3 linked regions of the Homo sapiens genome follow. The protein of the gene in region 1 purifies or fractionates together with the protein of each later gene. This does not show direct contact. Each region holds a gene or a part of one and is shown in the gene's direction. Other genes may lie near its edges.

Region 1 (5,476 bases):
AAGATGAAGATGTCGGGGTGAGCCGAGTAGACTCGTGGAGGAAGAGTCATCCAGCTGGACAAGGTGGCAGGGCACAGACCAGCACGGTGGCTGGAGCAGAGTATGGCAGTAGAAGGAAGAGGATGAGGGCTGAGAGGTCTCAGGATTTCTTGGCCACCGCCAGGTGAAATGGGAGCTGTTGGGGGATTTTGATCAGAGGGATGTAATCTGATTTTTGTGTTACAGGGCCTTGGGCTGCCATGTGCAGAACATGGGGGTGGGGGACGGCAGGGGAGAAAGCCGAGATTGCATAGGAGACAGTAGCTGTCATCTCTGCCAGGAATGGGTGACTTTGCTGGGGTCTAAAAATGGGCAGCTAGTAGAGGAGGTGCTGGGAAAGGAGGCTGAGAAGGTTGGAGGAAGCCAAGAGGGGCAGTGATGTTGGGAAGAGAGGGTGTTGAAAGTGGTGCCAGCCATGGCGGACACTGCATGCTTTGTCTGATGAAGGATACACCTGCAGGGGTGTTATAGGATCTCAGCCTGTGTGTCATGGGTGCTGGCCTTGAGGCCTGGGAGTCTGACTGGGCTGCTGGGGCCTGGATGGTATGCACCCTCATGGGCATGGAACCCAGCCTTATGAAGGGGGCCCAGGGGTTTGGGTGTGGCACCAGCTTGGGATCACTGTCACAGTGAAGTTCCCTTCTGCGGCTCTCAGCTCAGGCCCACTTTGCCCAGAAGACATGTTTCTACCCAACCAGCTGTGTTTTCAAAGCCGCTGAGCTTCTCCAAAGACAGTTCTTAGCACAGCATGATGGAGAGGAGGCTAGGGTGCTGTGGGGAGCCTCTGTCTCATATCACCTTCCATCAGGAAGCCCCTTTCTATTCTGTATCTGGAGCTCCTTCAGTTCCTTCCTGTCTGCAGCTCCCTCTGCTTTTCTCTCTGTGGCGTGGTCTGTTGGCCACCAGGTGTCGCTCTCACAGCCAGGATCAGTGCTTAGGGACTTTGAGGTGTGGTTTGGCCAGAGGAGGGTGCTGTTGGCTCAGCTTTTTCTGGGAAAATGGGTCACCTGGCCACCTCTTTGGGGTCCTCAGAGTCACTGGCACTCTTGGGCTCAGGTGAGGCCTGATTCTGGATAACAGGAGACTCCCTGCTGTCCAGGTAATGAGAAGCAGGCCCAAACATCAAAGCAAGATGGAAAAGGGAAAGATGAGAGAAACCTAACCTGTTGAGCAATGGCAGGTTGGAGAGGAAAGAGAAAGCTTATGGAAGTCGTGAAGTGTGAGACTGAGAGTTGGTAGCCTGGAAAGTCTGGGGGCGGAGTTGTATGGCGTGAACCTAAGAAAAGTCCTCTGTGGCAAAAACAGTTTTGTTTTGTTTTTTTTTGCCCCTGGAATTATCTTAGAGGAGAGCTGAGAGTTTTCTGTCTTGGGTCACAAATGGCCTGTGTCCTTAGGTCCTTGCACAGAATTGAAACTCTGCTTCCCTTGTGCTGAGGCAGTCCTTGGAGAGTCTGGGGAGTTGGTTTTGAGGCTGTTTTACAGAAATGATCCTGGATCTTAGTCTTCCTGAATTCCCCTGAGTTCCACAACATTGCAGGGAGTATTTATGCGTCTTTGTGGGGCTTTGTCAGCATGTGTACAAGTCTGGTTTAAAAACTGTCTTTGACATCAGAAACCTGGGCACCAGGATTCTCATTCAAGTCACAGCAGAGAGACCTGGAGGATGTAGGGAAGTGGGTAGCAGGGAAGGGTCCGCTTTGTGTGGCATGGTGGCGGGCACTGGAAGGTATGGCATCCTAGAGGCTCGTCCCCAACTGTGTTCCATTGTCCAAGAGCACCCAGAGGAGAGCCTGACCATCCTCTTGCCACAGGGGCCACAGTCTCTGGGCCCAACAGGGTGGTGCTCAGTTTAGATGATTTGAGTGGGGATTAGTCTGTTCAGAACTGTCCCTAGGCCTCAAAACTGACTTATGTCCAGCCTTTCTCAGCTGTGAGCTGACCTGTCTGGCGTCCCCCTCACAGATCTCAGGATGATGGGGCGCAGCCCTGGGTTTGCCATGCAGCACATCGTGGGTGTGCCCCACGTACTGGTTCGGAGGGGCCTCCTTGGAAGGGACCTCTTCATGACCAGGACTCTCTGCAGCCCAGGCCCAAGCCAGCCCGGAGAGAAAAGACCTGAGGAGGTGGCCCTGGGGCTGCACCACCGCCTCCCAGCACTGGGAAGAGCCCTGGGGCACAGCATTCAGCAACGAGCGACCTCCACAGCCAAGACTTGGTGGGACAGATATGAAGAGTTTGTTGGACTCAACGAGGTTCGAGAGGCCCAGGGAAAGGTGACAGAGGTGAGGAGGGGAGCTGGGGTGGCTGGCCCCGCCCTCTGACTTGGGAAATGTGCCAAACCAGTCACGTGGTGCTGGGTAGCCACATCCAGACTTGTGTTTAGCCTCATTTCTCACGTGGAAACCTGGGCTTGATGCTTCTGGGGTGAAGGTCTCCATGTAACTGTGCCACCTACTTTCCCCGAAAACAGTTACTGTGTACCAGTAAGTCCCTGGCCACTAACATCCACTCTGTGAGGCCAGCAAATACTTCCTTTGTGGACCATTTGGGGATTGATGGTGAGAGTTACGTGGGGCTTGCTGCGGTACTGTTACTGTGTGTAATTACAACATCTTTTGTGAAGATAGAGGGCACTAGGAAATGTCACAGTGTGAGGTGGAAAGAGCTGGTGGTGGTTGTCAAGTCCTTTGTGGTGGCAGAAATGCATTCTGTCATCTCTGTTCCCACTCCTGCTTAGGCATGTAGTAGTGTAGCGTGGTGGGAAGAACCTGGGGTTCAGCTGGGACTTTGAGACAAACAGTGCCATCTCTTTCCTTGGAGATTGTGAGCTTGGCTGAGCTGGTGTTTCTGGGTTTATAAACTGGAGGCCACAGCAGTGCCTTTCATGGCATTGTTATAAGGCATAAATAAGGCAACACACGGGAAACAGCCTACCAACACAGGTTTGATGGACACAAATTGTGTGCATTGTTAGCTGTTTTCAAGTTTTTTCAGGGGCATGTTATTTCTGCTTGAATGGCTAAATCTCGTGATTCTGATGGGTGTGGCCCAAGGCTGCACTTTGAGCACCACTGGGTGAGCCAGGATTAGTGTCTAAGGAATTCCGTTTCCACCCTTTGCAGCTCACACCCCAGTGACCTCTTCTGGGAATGCCTTGCTGGGAATGCAGCTGAGCCTGTGTGGGTGTGGAGAGAAGGTGCAGATGGCCTCCGGTTTTCTCTTTGCAGGCTGAGAAAGTGTTCATGGTGGCTCGAGGGCTTGTCCGAGAGGCTCGGGAGGACTTGGAAGTTCACCAGGCCAAGCTGAAGGAGGTGAGGGACCGCTTGGACCGTGTCTCCAGGGAGGACAGTCAGTACTTGGAACTGGCTACTCTCGAGCACAGGATGCTGCAGGTAGGCACCTCAGGAGGCAGCCCTTTCGCACCTGGACAGTGACCCTAGCCTGGCAGATCATGGAGGGGCCGGGTGGGAACCCTGACTGGTCTGTAGTCAGAGGCCTGGTACAGAGGTGAGCCAGAAGCTCCTATGGATGGACAGAACCCCAAGCTTCCAGAGTCTATCCATATACTTTCTTCTGGAGTACTGGGGCCAACTCTTCAGGGCAGCGTAGCCTGGGACTCAGAATGCTGAGGAAGGAGAACTATGGAGGGGCTGGCCTAGGGAGTGCTGGACACTTCCCTTTGTGTAGACATAAGTGCACCTCTGGTCAAACCCAGAACTGCTCAGGTGGGACGATCATGCAACTCACTTTGATCACTCCCAATTCCTTTGCCCTTCTGACCCAGCCAGGTTGGTGCTACCTTCATTCATTCAGCATGGGTCTATGGAACATGTACTCTGCCAGGCACAAGGTAGTGAGCCATCTGCTGGTGGCTATAGCTGCAGGGCCACCTTGTGCCCATGTAATCCAATAACATGGCTTTGCTTCTGCAGGAGGAGAAGAGGCTTCGCACAGCCTATCTGCGTGCAGAAGACTCTGAGCGAGAGAAGTTCTCCCTCTTCTCTGCAGCTGTGCGGGAAAGTCATGAGAAGGAGCGCACAAGGGCTGAGAGGACCAAGAACTGGTCCCTCATTGGCTCAGTCCTGGGGGCCCTGATTGGTGTGGCTGGCTCCACCTATGTGAACCGTGTGCGACTACAGGAGCTGAAGGCTTTACTCCTGGAGGCGCAGAAGGGGCCTGTGAGTCTCCAAGAGGCCATTCGAGAACAGGCGTCTAGCTACTCCCGCCAGCAGAGGGACCTCCACAATCTCATGGTGGACCTGAGGGGCCTGGTACATGCTGCTGGGCCAGGGCAGGACTCTGGGTCACAGGCAGGTAGTCCCCCGACCAGAGACAGAGATGTAGATGTCCTTTCAGCTGCCTTGAAAGAGCAGCTTAGTCATTCCAGGCAAGTCCATTCATGTCTAGAAGGCTTACGAGAGCAGCTTGATGGCCTAGAAAAGACTTGTAGCCAAATGGCTGGGGTGGTTCAGCTTGTAAAGTCTGCAGCACACCCAGGCCTGGTGGAACCAGCAGACGGGGCTATGCCCAGCTTCTTGCTGGAGCAGGGGAGCATGATCTTGGCACTGTCAGACACGGAGCAGAGACTAGAAGCCCAAGTCAACAGGAACACCATCTATAGCACCCTGGTCACCTGTGTGACATTTGTGGCCACACTGCCTGTGCTCTACATGCTATTCAAAGCCAGCTAACCCCTGGCCCCTCCTCCAGAGGGTCTGAGGCAATAGCTGTGAATGTGGATTTAAGTAGAGAATCGTAGCAATGAAGCGAGCCTTTGGGGGCATGTACAACCTCAATCTGAAGGAGCAGTATCTGTGTGGCTCACCAGCAGGCATGCTTCGCTTTGTAGACAAGGTTCATTTACATTAATTATCAAAACTTTGTGCTAATGTCCAATTAAAATATCCTGAGTTTTATTATTTAAAACAATCAGACTGAGTTTTTTTCATTAAGAATCAAGATCCAAGACTTGAAGGTTGGGCCTGGAGTTGGGGTAGTCACCCCCTTTAGTTCCTCTCTCATCTCCTCTCTGTCCTCTTTTCTGAACTGTTATGGATGCACTCCTGAGGCCTAGATTTTCATTTTGGATTTCCTCCAGTTACCTGACTGTCCGGTGTCAGATGGCCTGGGAGTTCCAGTGAGTGGAACCTAGCCTGCTGCCTACTCATTTCGTGACCATGGTTGCTTCCCATCTCCTGGATCACTTTCTCTACCATGTGGGGGAGAACTTCCTGGTTCTAGTACTGGAGGAGTGATCAGAGGAGAGCAGGGAAGGGAGATTGGGAGAATGGTTGATAAATGTTGCTGGGGACATAAGTATAGGGATTGGTGGCCAGTCTGGATCCCTGGTACAGAGATTGCTTTGGGCAGCAGTGGTGTGCCACGGGGGCTGGGTGCACACCCCCACACAGCCCGGGGATATCTTCCACAGGCATAG
Region 2 (7,029 bases), on another chromosome or scaffold:
CCTGCTCCCCAGTGTCTGCCCAGCCCACTGCCTGCACTCAGTCCCTGTCCCCATGGCCCCCAGGTGATCTGGAGTACCAGATGTCCACAACAGCCAGGGCCAAACGGGTGCGGGAGGCCATGTGCCCTGGTGTGTCAGGCGAGGACAGCTCGCTTCTGCTGGCCACCCAGGTGGAGGGGCAGGCCACCAACCTGCAGCGACTGGCCGAGCCGTCCCAGCTGCTCAAGTCGGCCATTGTGCATCTCATCAACTACCAGGACGATGCCGAGCTGGCCACTCGCGCCCTGCCCGAGCTCACCAAACTGCTCAACGACGAGGACCCGGTCTGTGAGGGTCCCTGCTAGGGTGGGGGCTGGGCAGGGAGGGGAGAGAGCAGATGTCCTCAGGGGAGGGACATTGTAGGGGTGGAGGGAGGTTATGACCCAGACTCTCCCGTGTGTGATGAGTCTGACTGGGGCCCTCCTCAGCTCTGTGGAAGGGTATCCCGGCCTCTCCTTAGTGCTCACGTCCCCGCCCCTGCCTTTGCCCTCCAGGTGGTGGTGACCAAGGCGGCCATGATTGTGAACCAGCTGTCGAAGAAGGAGGCGTCGCGGCGGGCCCTGATGGGCTCGCCCCAGCTGGTGGCCGCTGTCGTGCGTACCATGCAGAATACCAGCGACCTGGACACAGCCCGCTGCACCACCAGCATCCTGCACAACCTCTCCCACCACCGGGAGGGGCTGCTCGCCATCTTCAAGTCGGGTGGCATCCCTGCTCTGGTCCGCATGCTCAGGTACCCAACCCTGCTCACTGCATGAGCCCAGGACCCCCTCTCACTTGGGCCTCTCCCCTCCCTTCCCTGAGCTTCCATAAATATCCAGTGAGCACCTACTATGTGCCAGGCAGAAGCACACCCCATCCGGGTGCTCGGTGGCTCACAGCCCAGCAGGGAACACAGGCATGTAAACAGCAGGTTAATGATCAGGATACGACACAGGCTATGGCAGAAGAGCATTGAGATTGCTCAAAGGTGGAATCGCTTAATGGCAGGGGATTGACAGATGAGTGGAGTTTGGCTAGTGCAGAGGAAGGGAAGAGTGTCCCAGGCAGAGGGAACAGCAAATGCAAAGTCCCTTGCAAACTTTCTGTTTCCTGGCCCCCTACAAAATGTGGATTGGCCTCATTTCTTTTTTTTTTTTTGAGATGAGGCCTTGCTCTGTCACCCAAGCTGGAGTGCAGTGGCGTGATCTCAGCTCACTGCAGCCTCCACCTCCTGGGTTCGAATGATTCTCCTGCCTCAGTCTCCTGAGTAGCTGGGATTACAAGCATCTGCCACCATACCTAGCTATTTTTTTTTGTTTTGAGATGGAGTTTTCCTCCTGTTGCCCAGGCTGGAGTGCAATGGCACAGTCTCGGCTTACTGCAACCTCTGCCTCCCGGGTTCAAGAGATTCTCCTGCCTCAGCCTCCCAAGTAGCAGGGATTACAGGCACCCACGACCATGCCTGGCTAATTTTTGTATTTTTAGTAAAAATGGGGTTTCACCATGTTGGCCAGGCTAGTCTTGAACTCCTGACCTCAGGTGATCTGCCCCCCTTGGCCTCCCAAAGTGCTGGGATTATAGGCGTCTGCCACCATGCCCAGCTCAATTTTGTATTTTTAGTAGAGACGGGGTTTCACCACGTTGGCCAGGCTGGTTTCGAACTCCTAACCTCAGGGTGATCCACCTGCCTCAGCCTCCCCAAGCGCTGAGTTTACAGACGTGAGCCACTGCTCCTGGCCTTATTTCTCATTCCCATACCAGGCTGGAAGCTCCCTGAAGGGGAGACACTGATTTCACTCCCCTCTGAACGCCTTGCAAGGCCTCTCTAATATGTGGCCTTCCACATGGTGGTTACTTAGTAGGGATCAGTGTCTAGGGGACCTACTGTGCGCTCAGCACAGGGCTGGGGACTCAGAAGCAGGAGGAGTCATTGTCCCAGTTGGGAGAAGAGAGGTGCTGTTTGCTTCATGCTTAAGAGCAGGGCAGGCTCAAGGAGTGATGAGATTTTAGCAAAGGGATATTTCCAGAGGGGCGTCAGTAGCGGGGAGGCTTCCTGGGGGAGGTGGGAACCCATGCCAGGCTCACATGTATGCCAGGCCTCTGGGACCTCAGCGTACTAACCCCTGCCCACCCCCCCAGCTCCCCTGTGGAGTCGGTCCTGTTCTATGCCATCACCACGCTGCACAACCTGCTCCTGTACCAGGAGGGCGCCAAGATGGCCGTGCGCCTGGCCGACGGGCTGCAAAAGATGGTGCCCCTGCTCAACAAGAACAACCCCAAGTTCCTGGCCATCACCACCGACTGCCTGCAGCTCCTGGCCTACGGCAACCAGGAGAGCAAGGTGGGCCCTCCCCAACTCTCCCGAGGCCTGAAGCCCACCCTTGCGCCATCTTCTATCCTGCACAGCCTTGGGCCGCTGCCCCCTTACTCCTTTTAGATGAGATATAGGTGCAGATATACATGCTTCATCATGCGACTGAATTGCCCAGAATTATTATTTTGAGGATAAGGGAAAAAAAAAATCACTCATCCTCATATAGCCACTATTGTCATTTCGATGTGCTTCCTTAAGAGCTGTTCTGTGGGCAGATTACAGATGTGTACACATCCTTGTCATCATAACAATCTGCAATATTGCATCTGTTTTCTGCCTGATTTTTTTTTTTTTTTTTTGAGACAGGGTCTCACTCTGTCACACAGGCTAGAGTGCAGTGGTGTAATCAGGGCTCACTGCAGCCTTGACTTCCTGGGCTCAGATGATCCTCCTACCTCAGCCTCCAGAGTAGCTGGGACTTCAGGCGTGTGCTACCACGCCCGACTAATTTTTTTTTTCCTTTTCTTTTCTTTCTTTTTTTTTTTTTGTTTGAGATGGAGTCTCACTTTGTCGCCCAGGCAGGAGTGCAATGGCACGATCTCGGCTCACTGCAACCTTCGCCTCCCGGGTTCAAGCGATTCTCCTGCTTCAGCCTCCCAAGTAGCTAGGATTACAGGTGCCCGCCACCACACCCAGCTAATTTTTGTATTTTTAGTAGAGACAAGGTTTCACCACATTGGCCAGGCTGGTCTCGAACTCTTGACCTTAGGTTGTCCATCTGCCTCGGCCTCATAAAATGCTGGGATTACAGGCATGAGACACCGTGCCCCACCCCCAACTAATTTTTTATAGAGATGGGATTTCTCCATGTTGCCCAGGCTGGTCTCAAACTCCTGGGCTCAAGTGATCTGCCTGCCTTGGCCTCCCAAAGTATCAGGATTACAGGTGTGAGCCACTGTGCCTGGCCTGTATGATGTTTAAAAAAAATTTTTTTTTGCTATATTGTCCTCAAAACCACCCTCTAATAATGACAGATTGCCTTTCCTTTCCCCTTTCCCCCTCCCCTTTCCTTTTTCCTTTTCCTTTTCCTTTTCCTTTCCCTCTCTTCCTCTCTTTCTTCCTTCCTTCCCATTCTTTCCTTTTCTTTCTTTTTTGAGACAGGGTCTCACTGTGTTACCCAGGCTAGAGTGCAGTGGCATGATCCTAGCTCACTGCATCCTCAAACTCCTGAGCTCAAGCATTCCTCCCATCTTAGTCTTCCTGATAGCTAGGACTATGAGAACATACTACTGAGCTAATTAGCACCCGGGCTAAGTTTTAAATTTTTTGTGGGGATGGTGTCTTGCTCTGTTGCCCAGGCTACCCTCAAGGAATCCTCCTGCTTCAGCCTCCGAAATGCTGGGATTAAAGTCATGGGCCACCATACCCAGCCTACAGATAGCATTTCATTAAGTGGAGACCTCAGGCTTTATTCTGAGGGAGGGTATTTAGATTGCTCCTATTCCACCTTTATAAACAATGCTGTAATGAATGTCTAGCCTTTGTCAAAGAGCGGAAAAAATTCTCATCAATTTTTAACACTTCTAGGCTTTTCCCCAAATGGCCAGATTGATTTCCAGAAGGACTGGACTAATTTCCAGTGCCATAACTGGTAATGGGTGTGCATATAGTTTTGTCATGTCCTTGTCAGCACTGGGTATTATCCTTTTTTCAAAATTTTGGCTTACATAACAGTCATGAAACTATTGGGGTGGGCTGGGTGTGGTGGTTCACGCCTGTAATCCCAGCACTTTGGGAGGCAGAGGCGGGTGAATTGCCTGAGGTCAGGAGTTTGAAACCAGCCTGGCCAACATAGTGAAACCCTGTCTCTACCAAAAACTACAGAAATTAGCCGGGCGTGATGGCACACGCCTGTAATCCCAGCTACTTGGGAGGCTGAGGCATGAGAATTGCTTGAACCCGGGAGGCGGAGGTTGTAGTGACCTGAGATCGTGCCACTGCACTCCAGCCTGGGTGACAGAGCGAGACTCTATCTCAAAAAAAAAAACAAAAAAACTTATTGGGGTGCTTGGCTGGGTGTGGTGGCTCACATCTGTAATCCCAGCACTTTGGGAGGCTGAGGTGTGAGGATCACTTGAGGCCAGGAGTTCTAGACCAGCCTGGGCAGCATAGTGAGACCCCCATCTTTATAAAAAGAAAAAAATACATTAAAAGAAAAAAACGAACTATTCGTGCTTTAGCTGAAGCTCAGTAATGACAGTTCTGTCTCCTGTCCCGCGCTTCCTTGTTCCTGTCATATTCCCCGTCCATCTCACACTCATTCCCTCTTTACCCATAGCTGATCATCCTGGCCAATGGTGGGCCCCAGGCCCTCGTGCAGATCATGCGTAACTACAGTTATGAAAAGCTGCTCTGGACCACCAGTCGTGTGCTCAAGGTGCTATCCGTGTGTCCCAGCAATAAGCCTGCCATTGTGGAGGCTGGTGAGTATGATGGCCTTGAGGGCGGCTGGGGTGGGAGCTCTGCCCAGCTGCCAGGCTCAGTCAGCCATGCTCCCCGTGGCTGATGGCACCCCTATCCCTGCCCCAGGTGGGATGCAGGCCCTGGGCAAGCACCTGACCAGCAACAGCCCCCGCCTGGTGCAGAACTGCCTGTGGACCCTGCGCAACCTCTCAGATGTGGCCACCAAGCAGGTGAGGGAGGTATCTGGGCCTGGGGTTGACCTCTTCAGCTGCCCCATCCAGCCTCCTGTCTGGGCATCTGACCTGAGGTACTGTGGGAGGACTGGGGGCTCTAAATCTCTCTTCCTTGTGACTGAGGCTGGAAATGCCTTGAAAACCCTCATCTCTTTTTTTTTTTTTTTTTTTTTTTCTGACGGAGTCTCACTCTGTCACCTAGGCTGGAGTGCAGTGGTGCAATCTCGGCTCACTGCAAGCTCCGCCTCCTGGGCTCAAGTGATTCTCCTGCCTCAGCCTCCCGAGTAGTTGGGACTACAGGCACCTGCCATCATGTCTGGCTAATTTTTGTATTTTTATTAGAGACAGGGTTTCACCATGTTGGGCAGGCTGGTCTTGAACTCCTGACCTCAGGTGATCCACCCGCCTTGGCCTCCCAAAGTGCTGGGATTACAGGCGTGAGCCACCACATCCAGCAAAAGAACAGTTTTGACCTGGGCCCTGGGCTGGAGCAATAGTGTACCAAGAGACAGGCCCCCATGACTAAAAATACAATTTAAGGAAAAATGCAGCTCCAGGGCAAGTGCCCTGTGCCTCCTTCCAACAACCATTCCCCAGGCCTCCCCTAGCAATATGCTGTTTATCAAGTGCTCACCCTGTGCTGGCCCTCTGCGTGGCATTTGTGGACAGTAGCTCATTCAACCTGGGGTTAGAGTGTGGGACCCTGTGGGTTAGATGAAGACACTGAGGCTCGGGGAGCTAATGGCCATGGTCACAGGTAGTAAATGGCAGAACTGGGATTTGAACCCAGGACTGTCCGTCCCCAAAGCTGGGGTTTTTCTGTTCCACCACAAGGCCCACGTGTCTCCCTGGGAGAAGTGAGATAGACGTCTGAGGTAGTGATTTTACTGGAAATGGATTTGGCTCAGGGCCCCAGGGTGGTGGGGCAGCAGTGAAGGCCCAGAAAGGTGACAAGCGAGTAGACATGGCTCAGCTGGGCCACTGAATCATGCGGCCCCCTCAACAATTGCCTCCTGGTCTCGAGGCCTCCCTTGGCCACCGTACTTTGGCCTGAGGAGGGTTCTGCCTGGGTCTGAGGGCCCCAGGGAAAGGCTGATGAGTTGGAGGGAAGAGATGTGGGGCTTAGAGCCAAGCCTGGGTTCAGATCCAGCCACTAGCTGTGTGTCTGTGGGCAAGTTCCCCAACCTCTCTGAGCCTCATTGCCTCACTTGCACCACAGGATAGTAACGCCCTCTCACAGGGTGTGGCGGGTCATAGGGATGAAAGTTCCCGGGCACACACAGGCAGGGCTGACCCCTTTAGGTCATCCCACTCCCCTTGGACATATTCGAGAAGGCTCCCTGGAGTTGGCTGCTCCCTGACTCCCCCGTCCCTTCCTTGCCCTCCAGGAGGGCCTGGAGAGTGTGCTGAAGATTCTGGTGAATCAGCTGAGTGTGGATGACGTCAACGTCCTCACCTGTGCCACGGGCACACTCTCCAACCTGACATGCAACAACAGCAAGAACAAGACGCTGGTGACACAGAACAGCGGTGTGGAGGCTCTCATCCATGCCATCCTGCGTGCTGGTGACAAGGACGACATCACGGAGCCTGCCGTCTGCGCTCTGCGCCACCTCACTAGCCGCCACCCTGAGGCCGAGATGGCCCAGAACTCTGTGCGTCTCAACTATGGCATCCCAGCCATCGTGAAGCTGCTCAACCAGCCCAACCAGTGGCCACTGGTCAAGGTACTGCTGTTAGGCGAGGGGAAGGAGCTCCCTGCAGCAGGCTTAGGTGCTGTATTGGTATAGGCAAAGCCGCTGTAGCAAAGAAGCCCTAAATACAGTGGCTCGAATAAGACAGAAGTTTATTTCTCTCTCGTGTAATAGTTTAGACCTCAACAATGGCTCTGCTCTAAAATTCCAGAATTGGGATTTCTATCTTGTAGCTCTACCAGCCCCTAGGGCAGAGCTCAGAGTTCAAAATGCACATGAGTACCCTGGGTGGTTTCATTAAATT
Region 3 (7,498 bases), on another chromosome or scaffold:
CCAGGCTGGAGTGCAGTGGCATGAAATCGGCTCACTGCAGCCTCCGCCTCGCCGGTTCAAATGATTCTCCTGCCTCAGCCTCCTGAGTAGCTGGGATTACAGGTGCCTGCCCCCGCACCCGGCTAATTTTTGTATTTTTAGTAGAGATGGTTTTGCCATGTTGGCCAGGCTGGTTTCAAATTCCTGAGCTCAAGTGATCCACCTGCCTTGGCCTCCCAGAGTGCTGGGATTACAGGCGTGAGCCACCATACCTGGCCAGCTTTGACAGCAGAAATCTTCTCTCTAGAAATATTCATATACATAAGGAATTTTGCACACATCCTTACAGGGTTTAGGGAGCCTCTTAAGCCTGTCCATGAACCTCTGCCATTCATTTATAGCATGGTGTCAGCTGCAGAGTAATAGGATCTATGTGGGCCTGGAAGTCCAACAGGCCTGGGTTTGAATCTTTTTCAAACATTTTTGCTTGTTAGCAGCTGGTTTGGACAAATAATTTCAACTTAGTTTTCTCATCTGTGAAACAGGGGGAAAAAGCACTTACCCTGTAGGGCTGTTGTGAAGATTGAACAAGACAACTCATGTTAAATACCCAGGCACCGTGTCCGCCTGCAGCAGGCAGTCAGTACATGGTGGATCTCGTGCCCCAAGCCTCCTCTTTATGGAGTCCCTCAACTTGCCCCAGCTGGCCTCGGATTCCTCCCACCTCCACCTCCTGGGTAGCTGGGACTATAGCACGCCATGCTTCAGCCCCCTTTGTGATCATTCAAAGCCGTTTGGTTCCCTGCACCCTCTCACATTTACTGCAATTCCTATAGAATCCAAATTCTTTTAACCTGGTGTTGTAGGTCATCTACAATCCTGATCCAAGCAGCCTGTCCCTTCTCCCACACCACTGTCCTCCACATGCATGTCCCACACCAACCCACGCCATCCGCTGGTTCTAAATACACCTGAAGCACCACAAGGCCCCACGTCTGGCTGCCTGCTCTGTGCTTCTCTCATCATTCCTCAAGGCCCGGGGAAAGTCCTGCCACCTCCCTGAAGCCAAGTGCCTACCCGCTTCTCCACTCTAGGCTGCTGTCTTACGCTGTGTGTCCCCAGCTGGATGGCAGCTCCTCAGGGCAAGGAACAATTTCTCTTCTTTCTCAGTGCAACTTCCAAAACACAGCAGAGGAGCGTGCACTGGGGGCCAAGGCTGGCACAGCAAACACAGCAGCACAGGGCTGCTGGAGGGGTGGAGGGGACCAGAGGGGACAGTGACCTGCCTGCTTCATGATACATGGCTGGGAGCCCCACCTTTTGCCTATGGAAGGCATGTGCTTTGAGCTTGATTTTCTCGGGTGTAGAGTGTCTACGCCACCCACACTTTCTCACCCGGTCCAATGCACGGGCACGGGCAGGGGCAGGGCCAGAATCTGTTGCTGTAGAACACAGCAGAGCTGCCTGCACTACTGTGGACGTCACCAAACTGGCAGCTTCACTGAAGGTGACCCTGGCCTGTGTGGGCACTCAGCTGATGCCCTTTTCTTCCCTCCTAAGCCCCATTAGCTTTAGGTCTCCACCACCTGCACTGAGAGAAAGATTAATGGTGAGCACCAGAGTAAAATCTAGCACAGAAGGCAGGGTTTCAGTAAAAAACCAAAAGCACGGCGGATTAGAGCTCAAGGGCCCACAGGTGGGCAGGACAGTAGAGGAACTGGGCAGCCCAGGGTGGCAGGATGGGGTGGACAGGAGTGGACAGGAGAGAGTAGCCAGGAGGAGGGACGTGGCTGCACCGCCAGTCCACGTGGGCGGCTGGAGACCTGGCAGGAGGCCAGGAGAGACTGTGCCTCCTCCAGCCTGGCTGTCTTGGCCAAGTTCTGACGGCAGCCAGGAGGAATGTGACAAAGAAAACAAGACAAACTTTGCTACCTCTGGCTGGTCAGGGGAAGTTTGTGTTGGAAAAGAAGAAGCCACAGATTCCACTGTTCCGCTGCCTTCTCCCCTCACACCCTGGGACGGCCCAGCACCTTCTAGTCCACTCCTCCCTGCCCTCTGCCACTCCCCTCATTACCCCAGTGCCCCCTCCCTCCTTGCCCAGGTCCTCCAGGGAGCCAAGCCTGAGAGTCTAGGGAGGCCCACAGGAGGAAATGATGTTCGGAAAGAGCAGCATCACTTTATTTTTTGAGACGGAGTTTCCCTTTTGTCACCCAGGCTGGAGTGCAATGGTGCAATCTTGGCTCACTGCAACCTCTGCCTCCAGGGTTCAAGTGATTCTCCTGCCTCAGCCTCCCGAGTAGCAGGGATTACAGGCGCCCACCACCACGCCTGGCTAATTTTTTTTGTATTTTTGGTAGAGACGGGGTTTCGCCATGTTGGCCAGGCTGATCTCGAACTCCTGGCCTCAAGTGATCCGCCCGCATCGGCCTCCCATAGTGCTGGGATTACAAGCGTGAGCCACCGTGCCCAGCCGAGCAGCATCACTTTAAATGGTATCTCTGTCTCACATTTGTGCCTGCACCTCTATACAAGGCAGGAAGGGAGCAGAAGACACTCTGCTAGCATTGGCTGGGCTGGAGACTCAGGAAAGGGAGCCTGGGGCTGTGGGGGTGAAGCTGGCCTATTTGTCTCCCCCAGTGGAAGGATGAAGACAGGAGCACCTGCAGGGCTCCATTTGCTGGGCTTCCTACTGGGGGACTGCACCCCTTGTCCCATTTAACCTTTTTGATAATTTCCCATTTGATGTTCACAAAAACCTTGTGAAATAAGTGTTATTTAAAATACCCCCATTTCACAGATGAGGAGATGGAAGTTCAGAAAGGTTTGAAGAGCCGCCCAAAGCCAAGAGGTTAGCTGGGACTTGAACCCACGTCATCTTCATTCTGAAGCCAGTGTTTTTTGTTTGTTTGTTTTTCCCAAGGCATTAGCCCCCTTCAGGGGACCCTGTCCTATCCCTTCCTCTCTCCACAGCTCCCTCAGCCCCTCTTTCCTCCCACTCCCATTCTGAGTGTCACTAGCAAGTCAAGAGCAAGACTAGATGGCAGCCACTAGCTGCACGTGGCCAACCACATCATTACAATTAATTAAAATTAAAGCTCCAAATCTTTGGTGGTTAAACTTGCTCCATGTGGCCAGTGGCTACCGTATCGGACAGCACAGACAGGAAACATTTCCATCCTCCTGCTGGTCTGAACTTAAAGGGCGGTCAGGAGGTAGAGGGAATGGGAGAGACCAGGCCAAGGGGCCCAGGGACAGAGCTGCCTTTGTGAGGAGATGAGGTTTGGGAAGTGAGTTTGGGTGAGGGGAGCAGGGGTGTCTGAGGCCTGGGGGAGGAGAGGGCAGCTTGCTGGACTCCCAGGCACCTCCCTCCGATACTGATACTCCCGCAATACTAGTGAGCAATTAATTGGCTGGGGCGGGGCAGGGGCCAGAGCAGGAGGGAGGCCAACGCAATGGAGGAGAAGCCACCACCCTCTCAGCAGATGGCAGGGCTCCGGTTCTCCTGGCCTCCTTTCATCCTTTGAGGACCCGGGAGCCTGCCTGGCCCTCCTCGACCTGCCCAGAGCTGGCTGCTGCTTCCTGCTCGCTCATCCAGCCCAGGGCCAGCAGATGGGCTATGGGGCCACCACCTTCCCAATTAGCCTTCTTAGCCTCTTGCTCACCCTTGAGGTCTGGGTTACCAGCCATGGGGAGGGGCTGTGAGTGCCCTGTGAGTAACCAAGGCCCAGCTTTGACAGAGGTCATCAGCCCAGGCCCCTCCCCTGGCTGAGCCCTGGCTCCCAGCACCCCCCCACCCCCGCCACCATGCCGTCCCCAGAGGCCCCCAGAAGCGACAGGTCAGGGAGTTGGTTTTGGGAATGTGGTGCCCCATTTCTGAGAAGGAGAAAGTTCCCCAGGTGATGGAACACGTAATAGGTATGTGGCTGGCCTGGTACTTGGGGAGTGGTGGGAGGGGGAGCCTGGGGGATGGGGGCAGAACTCATATTTGAAGGAGGAAAGTGGAGGTGGAGTGATGGGGTCCTAAGGAAGGAGCAGATCAGGGGCTGTGAATGGGACCTCATTGGGGTTGGGTGGGTGGGGCTGGAGCGGGCACCCAAGTGTGGAAGAAAAAGCTGAAACACCCACGACTGCGAGTGGAGGGCAGATGGAGAGACAGGCCAAGCTACGGTAGGCAGGAGAGTTAAGGAGCCAGGCAGCTGGGTCCCGTGGCAAGAGTGGCCGCCCCAGAGTGGGTGGCCGTGGGGCAGAGCGCCTGGTTCCGGGTTAGGCAATGAGGAGCCGGGGCCAGGCCTGTCAGGTGGCAGGATCGTTAGAGCCCCGTGGCCATGGGTACCCCACACTGCAGCCACTGCTGCTGCTGAGTAGGCAGATGCACCGGGCTGATTACCACGCTCCTCCCGGCCACACCAACTTCCCCTGGGGCACCCACCCCCTCCACCTCTCCTCCTCTCCCCACAGTGACTCCTGCCCAGGGAATGTCCAGCTCTGGCATAAAGGACCCGGGTGTCCTTGAGCTGCCATCAGTCAGGAGGCCGTGCAGTCCGAGATGGGCTCGTCTCGGGCACCCTGGATGGGGCGTGTGGGTGGGCACGGGATGATGGCACTGCTGCTGGCTGGTCTCCTCCTGCCAGGTAGGAGGCTGGGGGCCCTGGGAACAGGAGGGAGGCGGGAGGGAGACTCCGGGAGAGGACCCAGCGAAGGGGACAGGCAGGGGCTCTGGAATCTGCCTTTTGAGTCTGGGGGTTGCTCCTCACTGTATGGTCGCCTCAGGTAAGTTTCTTAAACTTCCTGAGCCCCAGTTTCTGAAACTCTGAAGTGGGGTTAATGACACCTAACTCTAGTCTGTGTGTCTCAAATTAAATAATGTATGTGATATGTACTTTGGAAATTCTAGAGGTTTATATAAATGGTGGTGGTGATTTTTATTATGGGAGCACTACAAGATAATGATTGGACATTTAATAGTAATAATATCATTTTTAGAGCCTTTTTATATGCTAGACTCTGTTTTAAGCACATTTGGATTATATATTAGAACTTTTATTTTTATTTTTTTTTGTGAGATGGAGTCCCACTCTGTCTCCAAGGCTGGAGTGCAGTGGCGTAATCTCGGCTCACTGCAACTTCCACCTCTCAGGTTCAAGCGACTCTCATGCCTCAGCCTCTAGAGTAGCTGGGACTACAGGTGCCCATCACCACACCTGGCTAATTTTCTTTTTTTTGTATTTTTAGTAGAAACAGGGTTTCACCATTTTGGTCAAGCTGGTCTTGAACTCCTGACTCAAGTGATCCGCTCGCCTCAGCCTCCCAAGGTGCTGGGATTACAGGCATGAGCCACCACACCCGGCCTATATTAGCACTTTTGATCATTACAAGAACGGTATGAAAGGAGATTTGCTATTTCCACTCTACAGATGAGGACACTGAGGCTCAGAGAAGTTAGGAAAGTAGCTCAAGATCATGCATTAGAAGGCAGCAAAGCCAAGATTTCAACCCCAGGCCGGGCAACCCCTGGACCTGTGTTGTTGACCACCGGGTACTTATAGCCCTTGAGGAATTTCTGCGACCTTCCCATGGTCTAGTGGGTGGTTGGTGTCTGAGGGAATAGCGAAAGAGAGAGGCAATGCATGGTGGATTCGTGCAGAGGACTGAAGGGAATTGGCACAGCTGGGGTTCGGCGTGGAGGTGCATGCAGAGAATTTCTTTCTGAGGAGAGAACAGGGACATCACAGAGGATGGCAGTCTGGTTGTTGGTGGAGGGATCAGGATGAGTGGCAGTAATAATTCATAATATATAATGCTTTACACTTTCTAAAACATCTGGCCGCACATGATAGCTTGTGCCTGTAATCCCAACATTTCAGGAGGCCAAGGCAGGTGAATCGCCTGAGGTTAGGAGTTCAAGACCAGCCTGGCCAAGATGGTGAAACCCCCTCTCTACTAAAAATACAAAAAATTAGCTGGGTGTGGTGGCGGGCACCTGTGGTCCCAGCTACTTGGGAGGCTGAGGCAGGAGAATCGCTTGCACCAAGGAGGCAGAGGTTACAGTGAGCTGAGACCGTGTTATTGCACTTTAGCCTGGGCAACAAGAAACTCCATCTCACAAAAAAAAAAAAAAAAAAGAAGAAGAAGAAAAAACTTCCAGGTGGATGATCTCATTTAGTTTTCTTCATAGTAATGCTGTGGGAAGGCAGGGAAAATTTGGCCCCTCTGAATGTATAAACTAAAGCTCAGAGAGGTTCAGTAACTTGCTAGTATGTGGCTCTGTTTGTAACACGTGGGACCTGGAGGGGCTAGGGAAGGCAGAAGGAACGCAGGTGAAAGAGTCATGGAGGAACCACGGGGTAAGTTGGGCCTGGGGTTTTGAGCAAAGGAAAGGAAAGATAAGGAAAGATGTGGCTCCACATCCCTGAGGGAAGTCAAGGCAGCAGAAGTCAGATGAGGGGCTGGACAGAGGCAGGTGTGCTCAGAGAGGGAAGCTGATTGTGGCCAGGAGCCTCGGAGGTTCGTGGGGTTTCGTCCTGGTTCCCTGGGCTGGGCCAGCGAGAGCAGGGCTGGCTCAGGGTGCGGTGTCCTGACACACTGGTACCAGCAGGTTCTGAAGCAACAGGTAGTGACCCCACATCCTGGCCCCCACCCAGCTTTACTGGCATGGCCAGTGCTGAGATAGGAAATAGGGTTTCCATTCCTGACCCCAGCCTGGGCTCTCACGAAGAAGCTGGTGACCAAATCTTAGTCCTCGAGTGCCCTTTCCTTTATTTCAGCCCCTCTGCCCCCAGCTTTGTCTTTTTCCAGTGTCTCCTTCTATATGTGTCTCCACTTCTCAGCCCTCCATTGTTTTGCCTTTTGTCTTCTTCCCTTTGGTCCCACTGTCTGGCCCAGGATTTTTCCCCTAAGAATTTACGCCTGGACTCCTCAGAGCCTCAGTTTCCCCAATTCTCTGTCTCTTCAGGGTCCTTTCTTTTAGACCTACTTGTTCCTGCCCCTTCTCCATTCCCTCTTCTTTTTAAAAAAAATTTTAATTAAAAAACAAAATACAGACGGGGTCTATGTTGCCCAGGCTGGTCTTGAACTCTGGGGCGCATGCAATCCTCCCACCTCGGCCTCCCAAAGTGCTGGGATTACCGGCGTGAGCCACTGTGCCCAGCCCCCTCTTATATTCAATGTATTCCTTTGAGGCCACTCACTTTGGCACCTAATTTTCTATTTTTCTGGTTGGTGTTTGCCCACCCTTCCCAAACAAAGAAATGCCTTTATTCGGCCACCTCAATATCCTTTAGAGACAATAGCCAGTTCTTCCTCCTTTCTCCATCCCTAAACTCTCCCTGCGCTCTGCTTGGGAGAAACCCGAGAGGCCGATGACTGAGATAAGGCAGAAAGGTGAGGGAGGAAGCCAAGCCTCCTTGGCCCTTACTAACCACTGCTTTCCTCCACAGGGACCTTGGCTAAGAGCATTGGCACCTTCTCAGACCCTTGTAAGGACCCCACGCGTATCACCTCCCCTAACGACCCCTGCCTC

The links.
Region 2: the proteins of CCDC51 (region 1) and JUP purify together in Homo sapiens (affinity purification with mass spectrometry; 3 studies listed by BioGRID and IntAct, with this or other methods). This does not show direct contact.
Region 3: the proteins of CCDC51 (region 1) and CDSN purify together in Homo sapiens (affinity purification with mass spectrometry; 3 studies listed by BioGRID and IntAct, with this or other methods). This does not show direct contact.

Annotation. Positions count from the first base shown.
Region 1 is NC_000003.12:48,431,662-48,437,137, reverse strand, and holds the end of CCDC51 (mitochondrial potassium channel), read left to right. Parts: intron 1-2,001; 5' UTR 2,002-2,009; coding exon 2,010-2,321; intron 2,322-3,161; exon of another isoform or gene 3,162-3,266; coding exon 3,267-3,431; intron 3,432-3,971; coding exon 3,972-4,730; 3' UTR 4,731-4,965; downstream 4,966-5,476.
Region 2 is NC_000017.11:41,762,712-41,769,740, reverse strand, and holds part of JUP (junction plakoglobin), read left to right. Parts: intron 1-63; coding exon 64-323; intron 324-533; coding exon 534-772; intron 773-2,160; coding exon 2,161-2,362; intron 2,363-4,673; coding exon 4,674-4,818; intron 4,819-4,924; coding exon 4,925-5,028; intron 5,029-6,419; coding exon 6,420-6,758; intron 6,759-7,029. UniProt on the Homo sapiens protein: Common junctional plaque protein. The membrane-associated plaques are architectural elements in an important strategic position to influence the arrangement and function of both the cytoskeleton and the cells within the tissue.
Region 3 is NC_000006.12:31,117,447-31,124,944, reverse strand, and holds the start of CDSN (corneodesmosin precursor), read left to right. Parts: upstream 1-4,498; 5' UTR 4,499-4,525; coding exon 4,526-4,610; intron 4,611-7,415; coding exon 7,416-7,498. UniProt on the Homo sapiens protein: Important for the epidermal barrier integrity.